Regions from separate parts of the Homo sapiens genome. Here regions 2, 3 and 4 are each linked to region 1. The links come from fine-mapping of genetic effects on gene expression. A gene starts in region 1. Each other region holds a variant in brackets. All regions are shown on one strand. Distances are from middle to middle. Region 1 holds the start of SPEF2 (sperm flagellar 2). Region 2 overlaps SPEF2 (sperm flagellar 2). Region 3 overlaps SPEF2 (sperm flagellar 2). Region 4 overlaps SPEF2 (sperm flagellar 2).

What was found.
Region 2: its variant is fine-mapped to the expression of SPEF2 in monocytes (TOPMed, PIP 0.91).
Region 3: its variant is fine-mapped to the expression of SPEF2 in whole blood (TOPMed, PIP above 0.99). The same link has a PIP of 0.9 or more in cerebellar hemisphere.
Region 4: its variant is fine-mapped to the expression of SPEF2 in whole blood (INTERVAL, PIP above 0.99). The same link has a PIP of 0.9 or more in atrial appendage, esophagus muscle and fibroblasts.

What each region holds. Positions count from the first base shown.
Region 1 is chr5:35,615,117-35,620,771 of GRCh38, reverse strand. SPEF2 (sperm flagellar 2) reads right to left here and starts at 2,909. Exons shown (of 37, transcript NM_024867.4): 1 at 2,717-2,909. The coding sequence starts at 2,774. RefSeq lists an enhancer at 2,059-2,866.
Region 2 is chr5:35,640,701-35,646,355 of GRCh38, reverse strand. SPEF2 (sperm flagellar 2) reads right to left here. Exons shown (of 37, transcript NM_024867.4): 3 at 4,673-4,925; 4 at 1,831-2,001. Among named protein-coding and RNA genes, the nearest start is that of SPEF2, 26 kb to the right of the region's middle. The variant T/C (reference allele first, on the strand shown) is at 2,824.
Region 3 is chr5:35,669,097-35,674,751 of GRCh38, reverse strand. It overlaps SPEF2 (sperm flagellar 2), which reads right to left. Exons shown (of 37, transcript NM_024867.4): 10 at 4,525-4,693. Among named protein-coding and RNA genes, the nearest start is that of SPEF2, 54 kb to the right of the region's middle. The variant T/G (reference allele first, on the strand shown) is at 2,713.
Region 4 is chr5:35,705,864-35,711,518 of GRCh38, reverse strand. It overlaps SPEF2 (sperm flagellar 2), which reads right to left. Exons shown (of 37, transcript NM_024867.4): 19 at 2,398-2,571. Among named protein-coding and RNA genes, the nearest start is that of SPEF2, 91 kb to the right of the region's middle. The variant A/C (reference allele first, on the strand shown) is at 3,500.

The sequences.
Region 1 (5,655 bases):
TGGTTTTTACTTGACAAAAATACATAAATATCCTTTAAGCCAAAAGTTATAGCAGCTAACTAATTCTTTGTAATAACTGCATAACAATTCATAGTATGAATAAAGCACCATGTATCCAAGCATTACACTTTTGAAGGATACTCAGATTGTTTCCAATTTTTATTTTTGCCCCTGTAATTCATGTAGCAATAAACGTCTTTGTTCAAATATCCTTATATATTGGTGCTTTTATTTTTATTTGATAGATGCTGAGAAGTAGGATTTAGCATTTATGTCCAAAGTGCTATTTTAAATGCTTTACATTTAATATCCCATTTAATCTTGATACAACCAGATGAGGTATCATTATTATTGCTGTTTTTAAGTATGATGAAATTTAGGTAAATAACTTGTCCAAAAGATTTCCAAGCAGTCTAACCTCCAAGTTCTTGCTTTTTACACTTCCCTTACCCAGAAATTGCCTGATTACTTTCCCCAGAGGTTGCACCCACTCACAGTCCTTCCATGATAGATTCTACAAACCATCCAAAGCCTTCCATTGTGCACCACACAACAGTTTATCTAATGATGGGGCAGCAGCAGCAGGAAATGTGCTTCCTTGAGTGCACAAATCCTAGCTTGTTGGCTTACAAACACAGTTAAGTGTGTTCCCAAAGACCTTTTACAATGTGGAATCTGGTTACCTCCTCAAGGACTCTCTCGCTCTATCTCTCTTATAGTAGTTGAGATTAAAAAATTAATACGTTTTGCTAGTGAATGGAAAGCAGAATACTCCATTAGAACGGGGCATCTCTGCTAGCTTCCAGATCTACACTTCAGGAGCACAGACGCCAGGAATTTTCTATCCATAGCCTAAATGTTGTTAAAATTCTTACTTAGTCTTCAGCCCTTTTATGTTTATCCTCCACCTCTCAAAACCTAAATTCCCAAAACTAATTAAAATTATAATGGCATCTACTGTTTTTATTTTATGTATCTTTATTAATTTCATTTATTTCTCCTAAAAGTATTTCAAAATGTTGCAATAGAGTCCTGGGGACTTCAGCAAAGGGTGTTTTTTGTTTGTTTGTTTGTTTTGTTTTTTGTTTGTTTTTTGAGACAGAGTCTTTCTGTGTTGCCCAGACTGGAGTGCAGTGGCGCGATCTCGGCTCACTGCAATCTCTGCCTCCTGGGTTCAAGCGATTCTCCTGCCTCAGCCTCCCAAGTAGCTGGGACTACAGGCACCCGCCACGACGTCCGGCTAATGTATTTTTAGTAGAGACAGGATTTCACTATGTTGGCCAGGCTGGTCTCGAACTCCTGACCTCATGATCTGCCCACCTCGGCCTCCCAAAGGGCTGGCATTACAGGCGTGAGCCACCGCACCCGGCCCGGGTGTGGTTTTTACTAATAAAATAAATGAACTAAATTAAACTAAGCAATATGTAACTGCTTTTCTTTTAGAAGAGTACAACTTAAGGGCATGATATTTTATTTTGGCTCCTATGGTGAGACAGGAATAAGAAACAATAAATGCTAAATATTGTCCTCAGTCCATCATATTTTAGCAAATAAACAGTTGGAGACACAATGGGATAATCGTAGAATACCAGGAAAGAATTTATTGCAGTTCACAGGGAGTGTGTAGATGGTTATTTGACAAAGAAAGAGTCTGAGGTTTATGCCTCAAGAAATGCAACAGGAGATGCTCCGTGCTAAAGATCCTCATGCTGAGAGTATTAATAACTACTTTGCACCCACAGAAACACTACCGATCTAGCAACTTCTGTAGATAAGCTAAGGTTGAACTGGCACCACTGCCTCTCTGGTAGCAAGCTGGTGTTAAGCAAGTTCTTCTGGGAAAATGGACTGAAATGACTTGCCCTGAAAACCTCTTCCCTTAAGCAAAAAAAGAAAAAAAGACAAACAAAACCAACTGAAAAATGAACTCCTGAAGAATTACAGGGCAGTCAAGGAAGCTGCCAGCATGTAAAATTGTCTCTGTGGTTGTCAGACTTGGAAACTTTGGGTGGCAACTGCATGGTTAGGATAAAATTAGGTTGGTGAATAAGGTCAGCTTTGGGCAAGAGCCAATAGTGACCAGAAATAGCTAGTTTGTGATTTGGGGCTTAAAATTTACTAAAATTTGTAAATGTTAACATATTCTACATTAACTTATTTTTCACCCACCCTCCCCTGCTGGTCAGTTAAGTATGGAAAGCATTATTAGGTCCATTTTATAGAGAAGGAAACACATTCAGAGAAGGTATTGTAACTTGTCCAGTGGCTTCATATTTCATCGACTAGCCACCACACCATGCTTCTGCTTCTGGTGATGTGAAGGAGGCATCGTTGGGGTCAGACTACAAAGTCCAGCAAAGTTCCCTCTCCACAGAAGCAAAGGAGACCTTCCTAAACCCTCTGATTGCCTAGAACCACATCACAAAGTCAGAATGCCTGCGGGTTGGGCCCACCGTGACAAGGGTAACTCGAGAGCGGCAGAGTGGGGACGTGACAAGGCCTTGCCCTGGCTGGGGTGAGCTGTAGGGAGGTGGCGGGACGGACCTGGGGCACCGCCGAGCCGAGTTGCTCACTGTGGGATGCTGCCGGCTACGCAGGTGCCCCACCTGTGCAGCTCGCGCCCTGCCCGCCACCTTCCCTGAGTGCGCTGCGCTGCGCTGCAGGCTCTGCGCCCCGCTAGCCCCTCAGACGCTCGCCCCTGGCCGTGGTCACTCACTCACGGTCCGGGACACCTTCAACTCCTTGTTGAGCCACTGGCACAGGATCTCCGACATGGTTCAGCCGGTGCCTCAGACCGCAGGCGGGGGCTTAGAAACTCGCCAGGAACCAAGCCTGCCAGCCCGCGTCCTCCTGTAGCCAAGGGCAACCCTTTGCTATGGAAGCGTATCCAGGCTGGAACTAGGCGAAAGGCCTTAGAGAAGAGGGGACGCTAGGGCTCAGCCGCAGAGGACAGAAAATCGTGTTTCGCCACCTGCTGGCGGGTAAGACCTGAGCGTGCGCCAGCGCAGGAGGAAGCCGTTGGGGGCCTGTGAGAGAAGTTAGGGAGCAGTGGGTGTGGGGAGAGGCGAGGCGGGAACACTTAGGGACACAGCAGGAGCTTCTTAGGTGAGCAGAAAGTAAAACCAGAGTCTCCGCAGGGCTCCGTGGCTCACGCAAATAATCCTACCACTTTGTGGAGGGGGTGGCGCTCGACTGAGCCTGGGAGTTCAAGACCAGCCTGGGCAAGGTAGCAGAAACCGTTTTTTTTTCTGTAAGAAATTAGGCGGCCGTGGTGGCGTGCGCCTGTGGTCCCACCAGCTCAGGATGCTGACGTGGAAGGATCAACCCAGGAGGCGGAGTTTACAGTGAACCGAGATCGAGCCACTGCACTCCAGCCTGGGCAACAAAATGAGACTCTGTCTCAAAAAAGAAGAAGAAAGAAGAAAGAATAACAAGAAGGAGAAGGAGAGGGAGAGGAAGAGGAGGAGGAGAAGAGGAAGAACAGGAGGAAAAGAAGAAAGAGAAGGAGAAGAAGGAGAACAAGGAGAAGGAGGAGAACAAGGAGAGATCAAAGAAGAGGAAGAAGAAGAAAAAAGAAGAGGAAGAAAAAGAAGAAGGGTATTTGGGGTATCCATCACCTTGAGTATTTATCATTTATATACGTTGGTAACATTTCAAATCTTCTCTTCTAGCTATTTTGAAATATACAATGTATCATTGCTAACTATAGTCACCCCAGTTGCTAGCTAACATTAGACCCTATTTCTTCCATCTAACTATAAGTTTGTACCCATTCACCAACCTCTCTTCATTTCCCCTTCCCACCCTCACATCCTTTCCAGTCTCTGGTACTCATAATTTTGTTCTCTATCTCCAGGGGATCAACTTTTTTAGCTACCACATATGAGTAAAACATGCAGTATTTGTCTTTCTGTTGCCTGGCCTATTTCATTGAACATAATGGCCTCCAGTTCATCCATGTTGCTGCAAATGACCTGTTTTCATTCTTTTCCATGGACAAATGGTATTCCGTTATGTATATATACCATTCTTTCTTTTTCCATTTGTTCGCTGATGGACACTTAGATTTATTCCATATCTTGGCTATTTTGAATAGTTCTGTGATAAACATGTGAGTGCAGGTATCCCTTTGATATACTGACTTCTTTTCCTTTGGATAGATACACTGTAGTGGAACTGCTGGATTTTATGGCAGTTCTGTTTTTAGTTTTTTGAGAAACCTCCATACTGCCTTCCATAGTGGTCATACTAATTTACATCCCCACCAACAGTATGAGTTCCCTTTTCTCCACATCTTCTCCAGCATCTGTTGTTTTTTGTCTTTTTAATAATAACCATTCTAACTGGGGTAAGATGGTATTTTATTGTGGTTTTGATATGCATTTGATAATTAGAGATGATGAATTTTTTCATATACCTGTTGGCCATTTGTACCTCTTCTTTTGAGAAATGTCTATCCGTGTCCTTTGCACACTTTTTAGTGGGATTGTTTGTTTTTTTAGTGTTGAGTTGTTTGAGTTTCTTGTATGTTGTGGATATGAGTCCCTTGTCAGATTAATAGTTTGCAAATATTTTCTTCCATTCAATGGGTTGTCTCTTCACTCCGTTGATTGTTTCATGTATTGTACAGAAGCTTTTTAGTTTAATATAGCCCCCAGTTGTCTATTTTTGTTTTAGTTGTCTGTGCTTTTGAGGTCTTATTCATAACATTTTTGCCTAGGCCAATGTCCTGAAGTGTTTTCCCTATGTTTTCTTCTAGTAGTTTTATAGGTTTAGGTCTAACATTTAAGTCTTTAATCCATCTTGAGTTGATATTTGTGTATGTGGTGAGAAATACTGTTCAGCTCTACTCTTCTGCATATGGATAGCCAACTTATCCAGCACCATTTATTGAAGAGAGGGTTCTTTCAACATAGTTCTTGGTGCCTCTGTTGAAAATCAGTTGGCTATAAATATGTGGATTTATTTCTGGGTTCTCTGTTCTGTTACATTGGTCTATGAGTCTATTTTTATACCACTACCAAGAAGTTTTGATTACTATAACCTTGTAATATAATTTGAAGTCAGATATTGTGCTGTTTCCAGCTTATGCTGTATTAATTACTATAGCCTTGTAATATACTTTAAAGTCAGATACTGTGCTGTTTCCAGCCTTGTTCTTTATGCTTAGGATTGCTTTGGCTATATGGACTCTTTATTGGTTCCATATGAATTTTAGGATTGTTTTTTCTATTTCTGTGAAAATGATCTTGGTATTTTTATAGGAATTGAATCGAATCTATAGATTGTCTTAGGCAATATGATCATTTTAATGATATTCATTCTTCCAATTCATGAACATGGGGTGTCTTTCTATTTGTTTGTGTCCTCTTCAATTTCTGTCATCAGTGTTTTATAATTTTTCTTGTAGGGTCTTTCACTGTCTTGGTTAAATGTATTCCTAGGTGTATATTTTTATTGTACCAATTGGAAATGAAATTGCTTTATTTATTTATTTGTTTATTCATTCATTGGTAGAGATGAGTTTTCTCTATGTTGCACAGGCTAGTCTTGAACTCCTGGGCTCAAGCAATCCTCTGCCTTGGCCTCCTAAAGACTTGGGACTACAGGTTTGAGCCACTGCACCTGGCCTTGATTTATTTTTCAGCTATTTCA
Region 2 (5,655 bases), 26 kb before region 1:
TTTCCCAATCCTACTGCCATGACCTTACCAAGGATGGGAAGAAAAAAATTCTATCTCTGAAGATGGTTCAATGAGAAAATTCTATCTAGGAGATAGTTTCTAGGAGGGCTCCTGCGAAACCCAATAAAAATCACAAACTTCCCCAAAACCCAGTCACACTTAAACAATGAGTTCAGGGGCAACCTCAAAATTGAATTAACAATAAATTATGTGATACAATTATTGGATCATCTCTTCTGTATGTAGGCAGTAGTTATTTTAAGAAGACTATAAGCAGGAGAATGTATTTGAAAAGAAAAAGTGACTGAAAAATCAGATAAAGTATTTTAAAAGTAAATGATTTAAGAGGTAATATGTGAAACTAATCATGACTTTACTACTAATACATTATATTAGAACTAATATGATCATTAGCTCTCATGTCCAAAGATAAAAAATTTCAATTTACCCTTAAAAAGGCATACATTATAGACAATTTTCTTCATTTTCCAAAATATGAATATTTATTTAATTGCAATATGTTTATCTTTTTTTCTTAAGAAGACCAGGAAGACACAGAGTCTTCCTTTTGCCTTATTTGTTCCCTATGATCATTTTGAACATAATTTATTTCAGAATATTTAATGGTATCATATTTCCTTTTTCTCAACATTCTTGGAGACTGTCTGCATTAGGCTTGGCACTAATAGACAGGCTGGTTCCACATAAATTACAGTCACAGCAATTGGTCTCAACTTAAACACTACTTTAAGAGTGCTTTCTCTCTTTATCATGTAACACCAAAGGGGAATATAATCCTTTATTTACCCTCTGGCAAGTCATATAATTACATGACTGCTTTACATTTTATTATATATAAACTCTACTCCAGTTAGTCCACTCTTCTTGAAGCTACAAAAACGTTCAATTCTGAACTCTGAGGCAGGTAGAAGTAAGCATCCCCGTTTTTACAGTTGGGGAAATTGAAGCTGAGAGTTATTTAGAGGCTGGCTCAATGTTAACCAGCTTCCAAGTGATCTTCCAGTTTGTCTGTCATCTTCCCATTCTTCCCTACAAAGAGCTGACTACATTCAGAATATAATTTCTTATCATTGCAAATAAATCCATGAATTTAAAAAGTGATTTTACAGTGCAATGGGAAGAACTACATAATTCTTTTGCCTGTAGTTTACACATTCCATATACCCAGTCACCTGAAATACTCTTAAAAATCTTTAATGATTTCATGTACCATTATTCTCTCACCCACAAAGGCACAGAAGATCATTAAAGAGTTTTAAAGAAATCTGAGAAGGAGCAGAGAGTTAGTCAAAGCAAGAAGCAAGGGCCAGAAAGAAGTTGAGAGTTGTTCAAGGTGATTGAAAAGGTAAGCAAGCAAAGAATTACCTCACATCTCCAAGAACAGAGAAATGGGGCAGGACCGAAGGTTGCAAAAGAGGAGAAAGCGAGAGGACATTGTCTGATCTATCTCCCTCAGTGGTGACAATGGTCATGTGCCTTTGACCAATGGGGTAGCTAATAGCAACCCTCCATCACTAAAGCAGCTGAAACATTGATTTCTACCAGTGAAGGTAATGCAGTTGTCTTGCCACTCCAGAAGATGGCAGTTCTTGTTCTCAGCCACAAGTAGAGGTGAGAGTCAGCAAGAGTCAGGATGGAGAAAAGGAGCAGGGGAGAGAGAGAAAGGGTGAGAGTAGGGCAGGACAAAGTCATGCATCAGGGAAGTGCAACTTGTGCTCCACTACTACTTATGCAATGTGTACTATACGCATAAATCACAAACTGTATACTATGCACTAATGAATTTCTGAAAAAATAGTTCTATAGAACCTTTTCAATATCAAAACATCTTTGCTCTTCCTTGAGTTTTTGAAATCTTTCAAGTTTCTCAAAATGCAAATGGGCAAGATCTTCTTTCACGTGTTTATATTTTTCTTGAAACCTGTATGTAATCCGCATCAGATTGAAATCAGTTTGACGTGGTATCATGTGTCTAAGTCTCTAAATGAAAAAAGCATTTCAAAAGATTTTATTAGAGAATAAAGAGTACATTTTCATTATAAGCACAAATAAAATTTGTCTTCAAAATGAAATTCTTTAAATTACTATTGTTGATAGTTAAGCTAAATTCAAACCCCATTCCAATTACTCATATTCTTAATTGATGTAAGCACAATTATAAAAACATTATCCTTTGTGGTTCTTCTTACAAAATAGCCTCATATATACTTTTATAGTTAAACTTTTTACACTGAGTTAAATTTTCAATAAATGGTATTTATATTCTTGGAAATAAATTTTATTTATTTTTTTTGCAAAAATAATTTCATTAAACCAACTTTAACATATAAGAGATAATATAAGAAGCTAGATTCTTCCCATTGCTTAGCCACTCCTTAGTAAAAAGTGAAGAAACATTAAAACTTCCTAGGTTTGTGTTTCAGCTTTACCACTTACTAGCTGCTTAAAATTGGGCGAGTTACCTAATCCATCCGTGCCTTAGTTTCATCATCTGTAAAATGGGAATAATGAAAGTAACTATATTTTATGGCTGTTGTGAAGATCCAGTGAGATAATATTCATAAAGCACCTGAAACAGGGCTTGGCACATCACTAGGCATGCTGTTTAATAAATTTCAACCATTATTAATATTACCTGCACCTCTTCTCATCCAGTATCAAAGAAGATGGCATCTCTACTTCTTTCCTATGATATCACCTCTTCCACATGAACCATTGATTGCATATTCCTCTTTCCGTCCCCAGAGGGCCTCTTTCCATCTTGTCCTTGTACCATTTTCATCTCTCCTGCCACTGACTCTT[T/C]TTCTCAACTGATAAGTGGCCCCAGTCTCTAGGTCCATAAAACAAGCAATCTCATACTTCACTTGAGCTTTTCTCTCCTACTGTTCTCTTCTTTACCTCCACATTTCTTGAAAGAATAATCTATGTTACCCTCTTCCTCATCTCCAAAGTCCTTCTCAACTCACTGCAATCCATATCACTCTAATGAAACATTTTTCTCTCCCCAATATGTAAGCTCTAAGAGGGTTGGGGCTTTTCCTGTGTATTTGTTGTGCAAGTGCTTGACAAAAAGTAGGAGCCCAATAAATATTTGTTCAGTGAATGAATTATTGACGCTTGAAGTTCACCCATGACCAACATTAAATGAGCTAATAGGCACTTGTTTGTCTTCATCTACACAGCTCTTATAGCACTTGCCACTGTTGACTGCTTTACATTTTATTATATATAAACTCCACTCCAGTTAGTCCACTCTTTTTCTTGAAGCTACAAAAACATCCAATTCTGAACACTGAGGCAGGTAGAAATAAGCATCCCTGTTTTTACAGTTGGGGAAATTGAAGCTGAGAGTTGTTTAGAGGCTGGCTCAATGTTAACCAGCTTGCAAGTGAAGGAGGCCGAATGCAATAATAAATTATTCATATTAAGACTAATCTAATTTCTAGCTCTCAAGGAGCGCTGAGTCCATTCTGCTACCAGACTTACAATGATATCCATGAAGAATGGACAAATATAAACATGGAGATAGCCCTCATATCTATTACGTCATTGCTGCTTCAAAATTTAAATTTAAAAATATAATTCTATCCATTGATATTTACTATTTTGCATCAGTGCAGCACTCATGATTATTCCAGAGGCCTGTAAAAGTTAATGCACTTCATTTACCATAAGGAATTGCATAAAAACTGGAGAGAATTGTCAACTAAAAAGTCATATCAATTAGTCAATAACACATTTAATGAGTACTTACAACATTTGAAGCATTGTACTAGACATATTCATCAAATCTGATGTACTAAAAATCTGGTAAGGTCATATGACAAATAAATAATGACTAGTTAGCCAACAATATCAGTATCAGGACGGTAAAACCAAGAGAGTGAGAATTACTTATGCTCTAGAGTTCCAAAGGAAGAACTGGGACTACCCGTGTGTACTGGGCTGCACGGTAGATGAAGAACAGTTTGGGGAAGAGGAGAGATGAGAAGGGTGAGTTTGGGTTTGAGGGAAGGAAGAGCAGGAATAGACAGTCATATTTAAGGACAGACTGTCAATTAACATAGAAGAAAGAAATACCATGCTGAGGACTAGAAAGAAGTAAAAATAGGTTTCTGAGCAGAAGAACTCAATAAAAGTAAAATTTAGGGAAGATTCATTTAGCAGTTGATTGACTTATCCAGAAGATTGAGAGACATTTTAGCAGGTTGCTGCAGTAGTTGATAAGAAGATCTGAGCAGATATGATGGGGTAGAAACAGGAAGAGAGGAGCAGGCACAAAAAGTATTAGGCCTGTAGTCCCAGCTACTTGGGATGCTGAGGCAGAGGACTGCTTGAGCTCAGGAGTTTGAGACCAGCATGGGCAAAAGAGCAAGGCCCTGTCTCTCTAAAACAACAACAACAAAAAGTACTGGAAACTAGGAAAAGAGTTTGATAAGCTATTGGCAATATGGATAGGATAGAGAGAGACATCAAAAATGGCTAAATAAATTCAAATTATTAATATAAAATAAAACCCAAGTATGGCCAGTAACATACATAAAGGATATATATGCCTAATGAGGCTTCTTTGAGAATTCAATATCATTGTCATTTCTCTTTATCAAATTTTACACTGTGACATGCTTATTATGCTTTTTTATGTACCTACCTCTTGAAAAGTATCACTTTTCATGTTTTGAAGTCTTAAATTTGTCAGACGTTGCATGGTTTGCATCTCCACTCCAGTCAGTCCACTTTTCTTCTTTTTCTGAAGAGCAATGTACAATTGATATAACAGCTTTGTTGCCACCCCAGGCTTTTCTGTGATGATGCCATGGGCCACATTCTGATCAAACTGCACACCCAGAAGGTTAAGTGTTGGCTCCAAGCGAGAAAAATTATTAAGTTTGGCACTTGAAACCCTGGACAGTAAAATATTTTACATAATTAGACATTAGCATTAAATTAAAGACAAACAACAAATATCAGACATATTATCATTATCCAATATTTTGAATTATTTCATGTCCTTTTAGCTGTATCATTCCTCTCTAAAACCACTCTAATGTAACTACATTGAGATTTTTTTATTGACCATGTCTACCTGAACTCTATGCATTCATTTCTTTTAAATGGCTACACTAAAATTTTTCTGCTCTAAATTGACAATAGGATTTCTTCAGAAGTAAATACAGAAGTCACAACACCTAAACTTGATATACTGTTCCTAGTATACTATTTCTCAAGAGATTGCATTCAGGTAGTGGCTCTAAATCTTTTGTTTTTGAATCACAGATACCTTTGAAAATCTGACAGCTATGGAACTTTTTTACAGAAAAGGAAACATACATTTATACATACAGACAAAGCGTGTATAACATCATATAGCATGTTTTTGAGCCTCTTACAGTCTAACCTAAAAGCACCCATCTTCCAAAAAGATGTGGCGCTCAGGAAATATAAGAGTGATTTCTAAATATAAATGAGGAGCCAGCACCATGAGATGGCCAATGTCAACAAAAATAGTGATGCAATATCTTGAATTCATGTTCTGATCATGTGGTGTAACTTACTGTCCTGTTTCCTCTGTGTACTAGTAACTCTTTTAACATAAATATTTAGCAAGATATATTTAGTGTATTATGCGGCATC
Region 3 (5,655 bases), 54 kb before region 1:
TGGAGGCTAGGCCTTTGGAATGTAATCAGGTTTAGATGAGGTCATGAGGGAGGGGCTCCCATGATGAGATTAGTTTTCGTAAACCATCATTCTCAGCAAACTATCGCAAGGATAAAAAACCAAACACCACATGTTCTCACTCATAGGTGGGAATTGAACAATGAGAACACATGGACAAAGGAAGGGGAACATCACACACGAGGGCCTGTTTTGGGGTCGGGGGAGGGGGGAGGGAGAGCATTAGGAGATATACCTAATGTTAAATGACGAGTTAATGGGTACAGCACACCAACATGGCACATGTATACATATGTAACTAACATGCACATTGTGCACATGCACCCTAAAACTTAAAATATAATAATAATAATAATAAAAAGAATTTGGAAACACCAAAAAAAAAAAAAAAAAAAAGAAGACGAAAAGAGAAGAGCTCACTCTGTTTCTCTCTGCCCTGTGAGAACACAGCAGGAAGGCAGTCTTCTGTGAGCCAGGAAGAAAGATCTCACTGGGGAGTCAAACTGGCTAACACCTTAACCTTGGGCTTCTCAGTCTCCAGAACTATGAAAAATAAATTGCTGTTGTTTAAGCCACCCAGTCTATAGTGTATTATTATAGCAGCCTGAGCTGATCAATGCAATGTATATGTTTTAAATGTAAAAAAGTGATCGATTCACATGCCCTTAACATTCATCTACTAAAATCTATCACTGTGCTTGTGTCAATTATCCAGGGATGTCTTTGGGCCACACAATTCAGATGAGACAGGAAAACAGAGAACTCCATGGCTCATTTAGTCCCATATTTCTATTCTTTGGTGGAAAAAGACCTGGTGGTAATAAAGGTCATTGTAAAAAAACTGGGGGATAGGTGTCCATACATGTGCTGTAGTGACAGGCGTACACATGTTAAACCATAACATATACAACCACATCTTAAAGTCTGGTTGACGGAAAATCATAAGCCAAAAATAATGTTAATAAAAATGTACATTATAACACACACTGTAGGGTTAATCCAATAACCACAACAAACTCACCTGATCATGAACTTAAACACTAATTTGCCATTAAAGGCAAAAAATAGCAGCAATTAAAAATCATGAACAACTTAAGACAACATGGATGATGTGCTGGAAATGAAATATCCTTCCCCCAAATTATAGAAATTCCAAGTATAACTTGGTTATGGGCATGCACAGTAGAGCTCTGAAAATGGTTGAGTGCTTTGTGGCAGGGACTTCTTAGAAAAATCCAAATCTTCAGGAAACCATAGCCATGAGCTAATTTTAGTTTATGAACACTAAATTTTAGTAACTCTTAAACTCATTCAACTAGTAATTGCTAGTAAGCAGCTTATATAAAAGTGAAACGCTATGAATTGCAACTCATTTGCTAGTAAGACCCACAGAAAGGATTTGCATTAGGGGGAGTTTGAGGTTCACTGGCAGGAGTCCACTGCATGATTGAGAACCACTAGCTGCTGTGTGGGGCTGTGCTGCCAGCTGCACTACAGGAACCAGGCCTCCTGGCTTAGACTGCTACCCATGGTCCATTGGGCTTTAAGGGCCCTTCCTCACTTTCTACTAAATAACTCAATGTTGTTATGCTGTGGTAGTTGCCTAGGAACCCCAGAGAGGTCTGACTGCTCCATGATGCTGTTCTTGCCTCTTTCCTGGGAGAGAGAAATGTTATTTCTAGCCACTGGGGTAGAGCTCCCTCACATTCAGTCATTCTCACATAAATAGAGTGTGATGATTTAGGAAATAAAGTTAAGACATGAGTCAAATTTTTGGCAGCTACATATGACATGTACATAAGCAAATATCTGTTTTAATTGCAATTTCTAGGTACAATATTTAAAAATTTTAAGCATAATAGCTTATTTGAACAGAACACGGGCTTCTAAAAGCACAAACTCAAAACTGGGAACTGTCAGTTCTTTAAAGGTATAGGGTATGGACATCAATTAAGTATGCTAAGAATATAAACTTTTTGAAGATTAATTTCTGAATAATACATTTGCTTGAACATAATGTTCATTATAATGTTATTGAACATTATATATAATGAACATTATTATGTTCAAGCAAATGTATTACACTATTTGTTCAAGCAAATGTATTATACTATTATACTATCATTCTTTATTTTTAGATCTTTGGTCTCTTCAAGAAATTGTCCTAAATGTTCCCACATACAAGCAAAAAATAAATGTTTCAACTTGTAAAATATATTATCTGGCTTAAATAGTCTATCACAACAGGCAGCGGAACAATGCATCCTGGCTTATCTAAAAGAAACAGTTGTCCACATTTGTCATTATTAAATTTGTTCAGGAGTTTTAATGCAAATGTATTACTTAGAAATTAATACATTTGCTTGAACATAATAATGTTCATTATATATAATGTTCAATAACATTATAATGAACATTATGTTCAATAACATTATAATGAATTATATATAATGTTCAATAACATTATAATGAACATTATGTTCAATAACATTATAATGAACATTATGTTCAAGCAAATGTATTAATTTCTGAGTAATATATTTGCATTAAAACTCCTGAACAAATTTAATAATGACAAACGTGGACAACTGTTTCTTTTAGATAAGCCAGGATGCATTGTTCCGCTGCCTCTTGTGATAGACTATTTAAGCCAGATAATATATTTTACAAGTTGAAACATTTATTTTTTACTTG[T/G]ATGTAGGAACATTTAGGACAAGTTCTTGAAGAGACCAAAGATCTAAAAATAAAGAATGATAGTATAATAGTTTACAGTATATCCTAAAACCTGTATATGGCATATTTTCCATTATGGTGTCGAAGGGAGCTTGTGAAAACATATTATAAATCCTAAGGTAATTTTCATTTCTAGAAAAACAGCAAAGTCAATACACAAAATAAAGTACATTGCTAGACGCTCACAAACTCCTAACAAAAGTTTACAATTTTCTGCAAAAGAAATGCATCATCTGCTTCAGGATGTGGGTAAGACAAGCATGTTCCTGTGGTAACCATTTCTCATACAAGGAAAATAGCTAAAGAGACAAAAATCTTTGCTAAGCTGCAGCCTACTAGGTCTCCTGATTTGTAAGAGCAACAAGAATAGAGATTGAGCTGTTTAGCAAGTAATTTAGAAATAAACATTCGATGAACCAGTAAAGTCTGTCAAATAAAATGACTTTTAATTTACAATGGAAAGAAATACCTTAACACAGGTTGATACTGTCAAAGCATTTTCTTACATGGCATTATACTTTAGGTGGATGTAATAGGTCTAGTATATTTTACAACCGTACAAAACAAACATCCACATATATCTTTTAAGGTTCTAGTCAATCCTTAATAATAATTCTCTTAGTGCTACAAATACAGATTCATTTAATTAAAATATAGTATACATTTAATTTCTCATAATCTCATATTTTTCCTTATCTTTTAACCACAAGGTTATCTTCTTGTAATATTTACTTGTTAGTGTTATTTTGCACTTTTCTTTGTTCATTGTAATTCATTCATTTTATTCACCCTTTGTCCCACAAACCTTTGTTGAGTATGTACTATCAGTGAATAATTAGGTCAAATAATCTTTTCATAGATTTTTTTCATGTTGCACTTACTGACCTTCCGGGACTCATTTTGTAATTTTTCTAATAAAAAGCCTCACTCCTCATTCCATTGCTGTTGATCCACTCAAAATTTCTATCCAAAAGCTATGATTGTTACACCTTTACTTCTAAGGGTGAGATGGAGTGGGATGGGGAGAGTAGGATGGTGAGGAAAGAAATGGATATGTATTATATGCATCCAACATGAAGTGCACTCAGCTAAGTGTTTAACTCATGTTATTTTAAATGAAGTAGGTATAGTAGCATTCCCTTTCCATTAATTGAAAAATGGAAATCTATTAGCCCTTAATGAACTGGTCACCTAAGGTCACACAGTTAGTAGTTGGCAATTTCAGTAATGTAGCTCTAGTCTGTCTAATCTCAAAGGCTTTACAACAGTTCTTCTAAAAATCACAGTTGGCACCCGATACTTTTTATTTCAATCTTTGAATAAAAGATTGTTTGAATCTATGCTATTCATAAAACCCAGACTTCCTCCTCTTTCATTTTGCCTGTAAAAAAAGTCTATTATTTAGATTGATTACAAAAGAAATACTTTTTAACAATGGTTTTTGAAGCAAAAGTACACAGCCCATACAAAGAAAAATGCTAATAAATAAATTAAAGCATTTTAAAAATTCTGAAATCTGTCTACCCAGACAATTACTATGCTTGATGTTTTTTCAGACCACTCCCCTAAGATTACTAGGAACAATAGATAATAGCTTATGTATAGTTTAAGCATCTAAAAAGTAGTACAAACATACAAATTAAAACAAGGGAAAATGCAAACAAAACATGTCTATTTTTATTAGTAGAAATGAAATAAGGAATATCACAAAATTAATGTTAAAGAAAAAGGATTTATTATGTAGCATTCTAATTATTTCATATCAGTAGGTACCTTATATTCTTCATAATCATTGGTATCTAGCAAGTCCCTTTTCTCCAGTTCTGTAAGTTGTTCTCTTGAGGGGTTAGCAGGTAGTGTCTTAACAGAGGCTTGTTCATATATGGGTTTTGCATTAAAAAATAGTTCCTTCCAATCATGCATCAACTTATACGGAATCAGACTATCGCACAAAAAAAAGGTAGAGATGAATCAATGGTTAGTCAAATATAGATTTTAAACATTGGTATTTTTATTATATTTATGTAATTAGCTCACTTTCATCAGACAGAAATAATTACTGAAAAATGATCTTAAAGGTTACCATATGTGCAATGACAATAAGACTAATATATATGAGATTTTTCTGTTACAAATAATTTACAAAATGTAAACCTACTTTTCTCTTAAAGGGGCCTTGAAAAGCACTCAGTTTGTTCGTTTTGCACAGGAGGACACTGATACTAGAGCATTTAAATAATTTCCTAAGGTTGCATAGTAAGCTGATATCAGAGCTGAGAATTAAGGAACCTAAGTGTTCTGACTGTACTCAATATTTTTAGATATATTGTTCTGCTATGAAACAGTCAATAAAAAAGTGAAAAGAGCCAGTGGCATAAAGTAACAATCATTCTTCAAACCCACTAAGTTCCGGACATTTTACTAGCTATTAGAAATATAATAGCAAGTGGAATACCTGGACTTAAATAGCAGACTCTGGGAAAGAAGGGGAAAAAATAATTGCGTACATAAATGAAAGTTTTGAATAAGAATTATACAATGGGAAAGCACAACAGTATGACTCAACTTAACTTGTTGGTTCCAGGAAGGTCTCTTTAAAGAAATGACTGCTAAGCTGAGTCCTGAGGAATGCTTAGGAGACAACAAGGACAGAGTGATGGGAAAATGGTTTCAAGACAAGATGTGTGAAATGTCCTGACATGATCATAAACAGTTGGACTAGAACCTGAAATTACAACTTAAAAAGTAGTATTTCATTCTGATTCATGCTACAACATGAAAGGACCTTGAAGACGTTATGCTAAGTGAAATAAGCCAGACAGAAAAAGGACAAATATATTATTCCACTTATATAAGGTACCTAGAAGAGACAAATTCAGAGACATCAAGTAGGATAGAGATTAT
Region 4 (5,655 bases), 91 kb before region 1:
AAGAACTAATTCTCAATTAAATAGTGACAATTGATACTGCATTTGATAATAGACCCTTCAATGGAACATAACTATGGAGTTTTTCAAATTTAATCCCAAGTATAATGGAAGGAGATATAAAATATGGAACTGAATAAAATATAGAACAATTTTTTAACAAAAATCACAAAATTTTTAACAAAATAACAAAATAACAATTTTTTAACAAAATTTTAACAAAATAACAAAATTTTTTAACAAAATAACAAAATAGGATTCAATGTACTATGCCTACTCTAGCCCTTTTTTAAAATTTCATTTGGTTTTTTAGTGAATAATTCCTCTTTTCATCTCAACTTCTGCTGAAGATTGTAATTAGATGTTTGAGTAGGGCATGTTCAGAAGCCTCAGGCTTTCAGTTCTAAAAATGTTCCATTTTGGAAAATTTGTAAATTATTTACACAAAACATTTTAAAAACCTGTGATAAATGTTCCTCTCTCAAATTGCCTAACCAAGCTTCCCTGAGCTGCAGGGGCAGTGCTGTCTGCTCTCCTGCCCTATCAATGTCCATCACAGTAAGGTTGGGTGGCAGCAATTAAGACTCTCGAGATTAACCTTTCTAAACATTCTTAAATATCAGGCACTAGCCTTGACCTTGGTGGGGAAAAAAAGACAAGTACAACCACTCTTTAAAGCAACAATAGATTTATTATTTCTTCAATGCACAGTATTCAAGAATATAATTATAAAATAGCAAACAAACTTCAGAAACTTAAAGACTGAGCTGGTCTGATCAGAAACACTAGAGTCTGGTTTCAGGAAATGGCTCAAATACATAGATACTCTTGACTGGAGCAAGCTGAGGAGGAGCTTTAACCTAGAGTCATAGCTATAGGTTAAAGGACGATATTCGATAATTCTAGGCTCACCTGACCCACTGTGAAAACTGTCTTCCTCAGTTATTTTTCTTTTCTTTTTTTTGGAGGTAGAGTTTCACTCTATCCCCCAGGCTAGAGTGCAGTGGGGCAATCTCGGCTCACTGCAACCTCCGCCTCTCAGGTTCAAGCAATTCTCCTGCCTCAGCCTCCCAAGCAGCTGGGATTACAGGTGCCTGCCACCACGCCCAGCTAATTTTTGTATTTTTGGTAGAGATGGGTTTTGCCCTGTTGGCCAGCGGGGTCTCGAACTCCTGATTTCTGGTGATCTGCCCACCTCAGCCTCCCAAAGTGCTGGGATTACAGGGATGAGCCACCATGCTTGGCCTGTCTTCCCCAGTTCTAAAAAGCATTTTAAATATTTCCATTTTCCTCCAGACCTCTGAATTGTTTTTTAATTTCCTAATGAGACAGCGGGAAAAGGGTGTATGTTTAATTCATGTCTTTGTGTTTTATTGTTGACATGATAAAAACATTTTTTAGGATGTGTGTATTTTGCCTGTAGTTAATTTCTAATTTCCTGGAGCAGAATGGTCTTTAATATATCATAATATATCTTACTAAAGTCTTCATATGTCTTTGTTTAATATGAATAAGTTTAATTTTAAAAATTAAGACCTATCTCAAATCTCCGTGAGGCAGAAAGACTATAGAGTTTAGAAATGTGGTCATGACACAGTATCAAAGATACTTAGGTAGACATGGTGTAACTGCACAGTCAGCCATTTATAAAGCTGAAACTAGAAACCAGAGCCTCATTTGTTTTATATACACACACAAATGGATACTGACACTCTACCAATATCATGCATTACAACAATTAAGCACTTCACTTTTGTCATTATATTCATTGTCTGCCACTTAATGCTAGACTTATGGTCCATAGCGGTTAAGGATCTAGAACAAACTTAAACTAAAAGTGTTCTCTATCTAGGCTCTTTATCTCTGTGTCCATAAATATATGTTTACTGAGATGGCAGGAGCTTGTTTCTATACTTTTATAATCACATAGTCCTGAAGATTTACAATTACATATAAATTCTAGTTCTAATGGTTGCTGTTAATTTGTTCCCTTATTCTGGTGGAAAACCAGCTATACTCATTCTTATTTTATTAAGATGTTCTTACTCATTACATAAATGTAACTCTATAGTTCAGCACACAGACGTGTATCCTCTTGATCTGCCTGAAGTTACCTGTTACTCTGTGCCTTTTCCTCTTCTCGTCTGTGGTCTTACTCTAATCAGTAGACCTAGGTGTGATGACTCCATGTCTCCTCCTACATGGCAAAGAAGTTGGGCTTTGTAACAACTACGCTTTTAGCTACTCCGAGGGCTTTTCCACTTCCATCTGAGTGTAAAGCCTTGTTTCATATGATTGAAGTTGCCCAAAGTCTGAATGTAGATAGACTATAATTTATAATTCTTTACTGAGTAAAAATAAGAAACTGAAAACAGGATTATAAATCATTCTGTCAATCACCTGATTGAGGTTTTCCTTTTGCAGTAGGAGTTTTTGAAGCCACATGGCTTTGATGAATTTCCTTCTCTTTTTCTGGTTCAGGAGGAGGAGCAGGAGGAGGTGTAGGAAGTGGAAGCTCAGCCAGGGAAGCTGCTGCTTTTTTCTCAGCTTCCTTTTCTTCTAATTTCTTCTCAACTTCAAAAGGATGATAAGAATTGACCTTCATTAGAGACTCTAGAAATCTACTATTTCACTTGAACTAAGAGAAATCTAAATTAATATAAAACAATCTTACGTATTTAAAGCTAATTCATGCTTTAGGGCTTTCCCTTAAATCATCTAGTCCTTAAAGCTAAGATTTCAAGTCTTCTCTCCCTTGTCAGAAATATGGTTGCCCTTGCCTTTTGATGGCAGTGGTGGTAATGTTGATGGGTAGTGGTGGTGATGGTGATGGAGGTAGAGGTGGTGATGGTGCTGGTGGTAGTGGTGGTGGAGGTGCTGGTAGAGGTGATGGTGGTGGAGGTAGAGGTGGTGAAGTCTGTGGTGGGGATGGTGGTAGTGATGGTGGTGGTGTGGTAGTGGTGATGGTAGGAGTGGTGATGGTGGTGGTTGGCATGGGGGTGATGAGGAATATATGTGTATTTGTGTGTACGGAGCAGGTATAAGGGGTTAGCAAGTGGTGTCAAATGTAAAAGTGATAATCTAGAAGTAGCTAATAAAGATGAGGAGAAAAATAAAAGATTGTTTGAAAACGTCCAGTGGGAAAGCAAAGTGAACAAGTGTAAAAAGACGGTAAAGGGCAATGTAATACAAGAGGTGGGGTGAGGAGGAAATGGAAGGGGAAAGAAATGTGTATCACTAACTTTAAAAAGTGAATACAAAGCACTTAGAATACTGCACAGTACATACATCTTCAATTAAGCCTTAGCAATTCATTCATTCCTGCAACAACCATTTATTGAACCTGAATTATGCCTTGAAGAAAAGGAAGGATGACAAGAATAAAGTAAAACTACTACTATTTCTAATGATAATAATTATAATAATATTGCAAACAATAGTTCTGATTGCTGGAGATACAACAGTAAAACAAAACAGAAAAATCAATGGCCTTATGAAGCTT[A/C]CGTTCTAGTGGTAGGAAACAAACCATAAATATGATGAATAAGTTAATTTATACAAGAGTTAAGATGGTGATAAGTGCTATGGAAAAAAAATAGAACAGAGTAAGGGAGATCAAAGTGTTGTGGGCAGCTTCTTAAGTTTTAGATAGACTGCCAGGGTGAGTATGCCCAACCATAAGGTGACATCTGAGCAAAGACATGAAGCAAGCCAGGGAGTGAGCCTTGTGTATTTCTGGTGAAAGAGTGTTCCAGTCAGGGGAGATGGTTAGCCCAGATGCCTGGAGGGATGGAGCATGCCTGACTGGAGTCTTTCTAGGCTCCCATCATTGTGATGACCCTTTGCCTTGCATGATGCAGTTTCACCTTTCCTGGCACACCCTCCCTGACTGCCCAGTCTTTCCATCCCTTCACACTGCAGAGGCCCACAGCTCTACTCAATGTACCACTGGCGACGATTGCCTATGTTCTTGCATGACTATTTCTCTTTACATGTGCTTACTCCACCCTTAGATTACTCTTTTCAATTCAGCAAGCTAGGAGGCTTCATTCTATTAGATGTTCTTTTGAAGTGGAAATTAGGGGTTTTAGTTCTGACTTTTAAAGTTATTCATAATTATTGCTTTAAACATCCAAGAATTAAGACAAGTAGAAAAGGGAATTGCCTGTTAAGTCTCTTTAAGTCCTATCTCCTTCCCCATCATCAAGTATATATATGCTGCCAGACTCTTCTGTGCAGATGTATTTAATACATAATTATGTACACTTTCCTTAAAAGAGACTATTTCATATGTAACCTGCTTTTCCCTACTTAACAGTATATTGTGGTCAGAATATAGAAGTACCACATTCTTTTAGTTTTTTAACTTAGTCGGAAAGTTTAATACAGAGCACTGGGCTAGGTTAATGTTTATTGTTTTAATTATTAAACATTTGTTAATTACCTGTTTGAAATATAAATCTTAAGTGATAACTGAGTCTATTAATGTAGTCAGTGAATATTAGAATGCAAACTCTTTAGGAAAATGTTGAAGTTGAGTCTAATAGTTGGCAAAAACAAACTGATTCTAACCCGTAGCTTCAAGCCTTCATGAGTTAGAATTGGTTTGTTTTTGCTTCCCAACCAAGACTCTGTAAGATTGCTATTCTGTCAAATGACATGTTAAGCCTCTTAAAATAGTATATGATTATTTTTTGTTTGAAAGGTTCATGCTGGTAGTTTTTGGAGTAGGCATTTAGATGTAGGAGTTTGTCTTTCTAAGTATGAGCTCCTGGATTTCCATGGTGATTGTGGTTTATGTCTATGGGCAATTTTAATGTTAGTTAACTGTTACATTATGGGAGTTAGGTCACAAATTTAGCGACAGGAGACAGTATGCTATCAAGGCAACTTTAGAATCCTTTTGACACTATTAACTTTGACCATTTTTTATTATACTAAGAAACAGTAGTTGCCAATATAATTTGGGGTAATTGATAAACAAAAAAGAAAGATTTATTTTTCAAATCTTGTCTCAAGGCAAAATCCCAATGGAAATATGATATTGGACTGAAGTTAAAATCTCTTTCAATAAAAAGCTTCAATAATAGTATAAAAAGTTAGTGGGCAATTATCATTGGTTGAATGAAATAGGAAGGCGATCTGTGCAGTTTTATGTGGGTAAGATAAAACATGAAAGCAAGTTAATATATAATTAATAATCAATTTAATAATAATAAATAAACTTATAACAAAATAGGTGGATGTGAGAAAAAATTGCCTAGTGTGTCCATCCTAAAAGAATTCACATGGTTTCTTTATAATGCTAAAGCTAACAAAGTAAAACCTTTACCTTTATCTACAATATCTCTAATGTTCATTATTTTTTACTTAAAAATATCTAATTAACAAATAAAGATTACAAATATCCAGAGAATAAAATGTGAATTAACATTTAAATTTAACTCTGCTGGGTTTTTTTCTTGTTTTTTTTTTATGTGAAAACAATGCTTTCAGAGAGATGGTCTCTTTTTGATTAAAATAAGAGAGAGAAAAAATCTTTTATTCGGAAACATATACAACAGAAAGCTAAAGCCAGAGGCAGAATATATTTGTCGATAGTATAAATCCAAAGATAAGAAAGAACTTTTCAATCACATCTTCATTTCCTACCAAACTCAT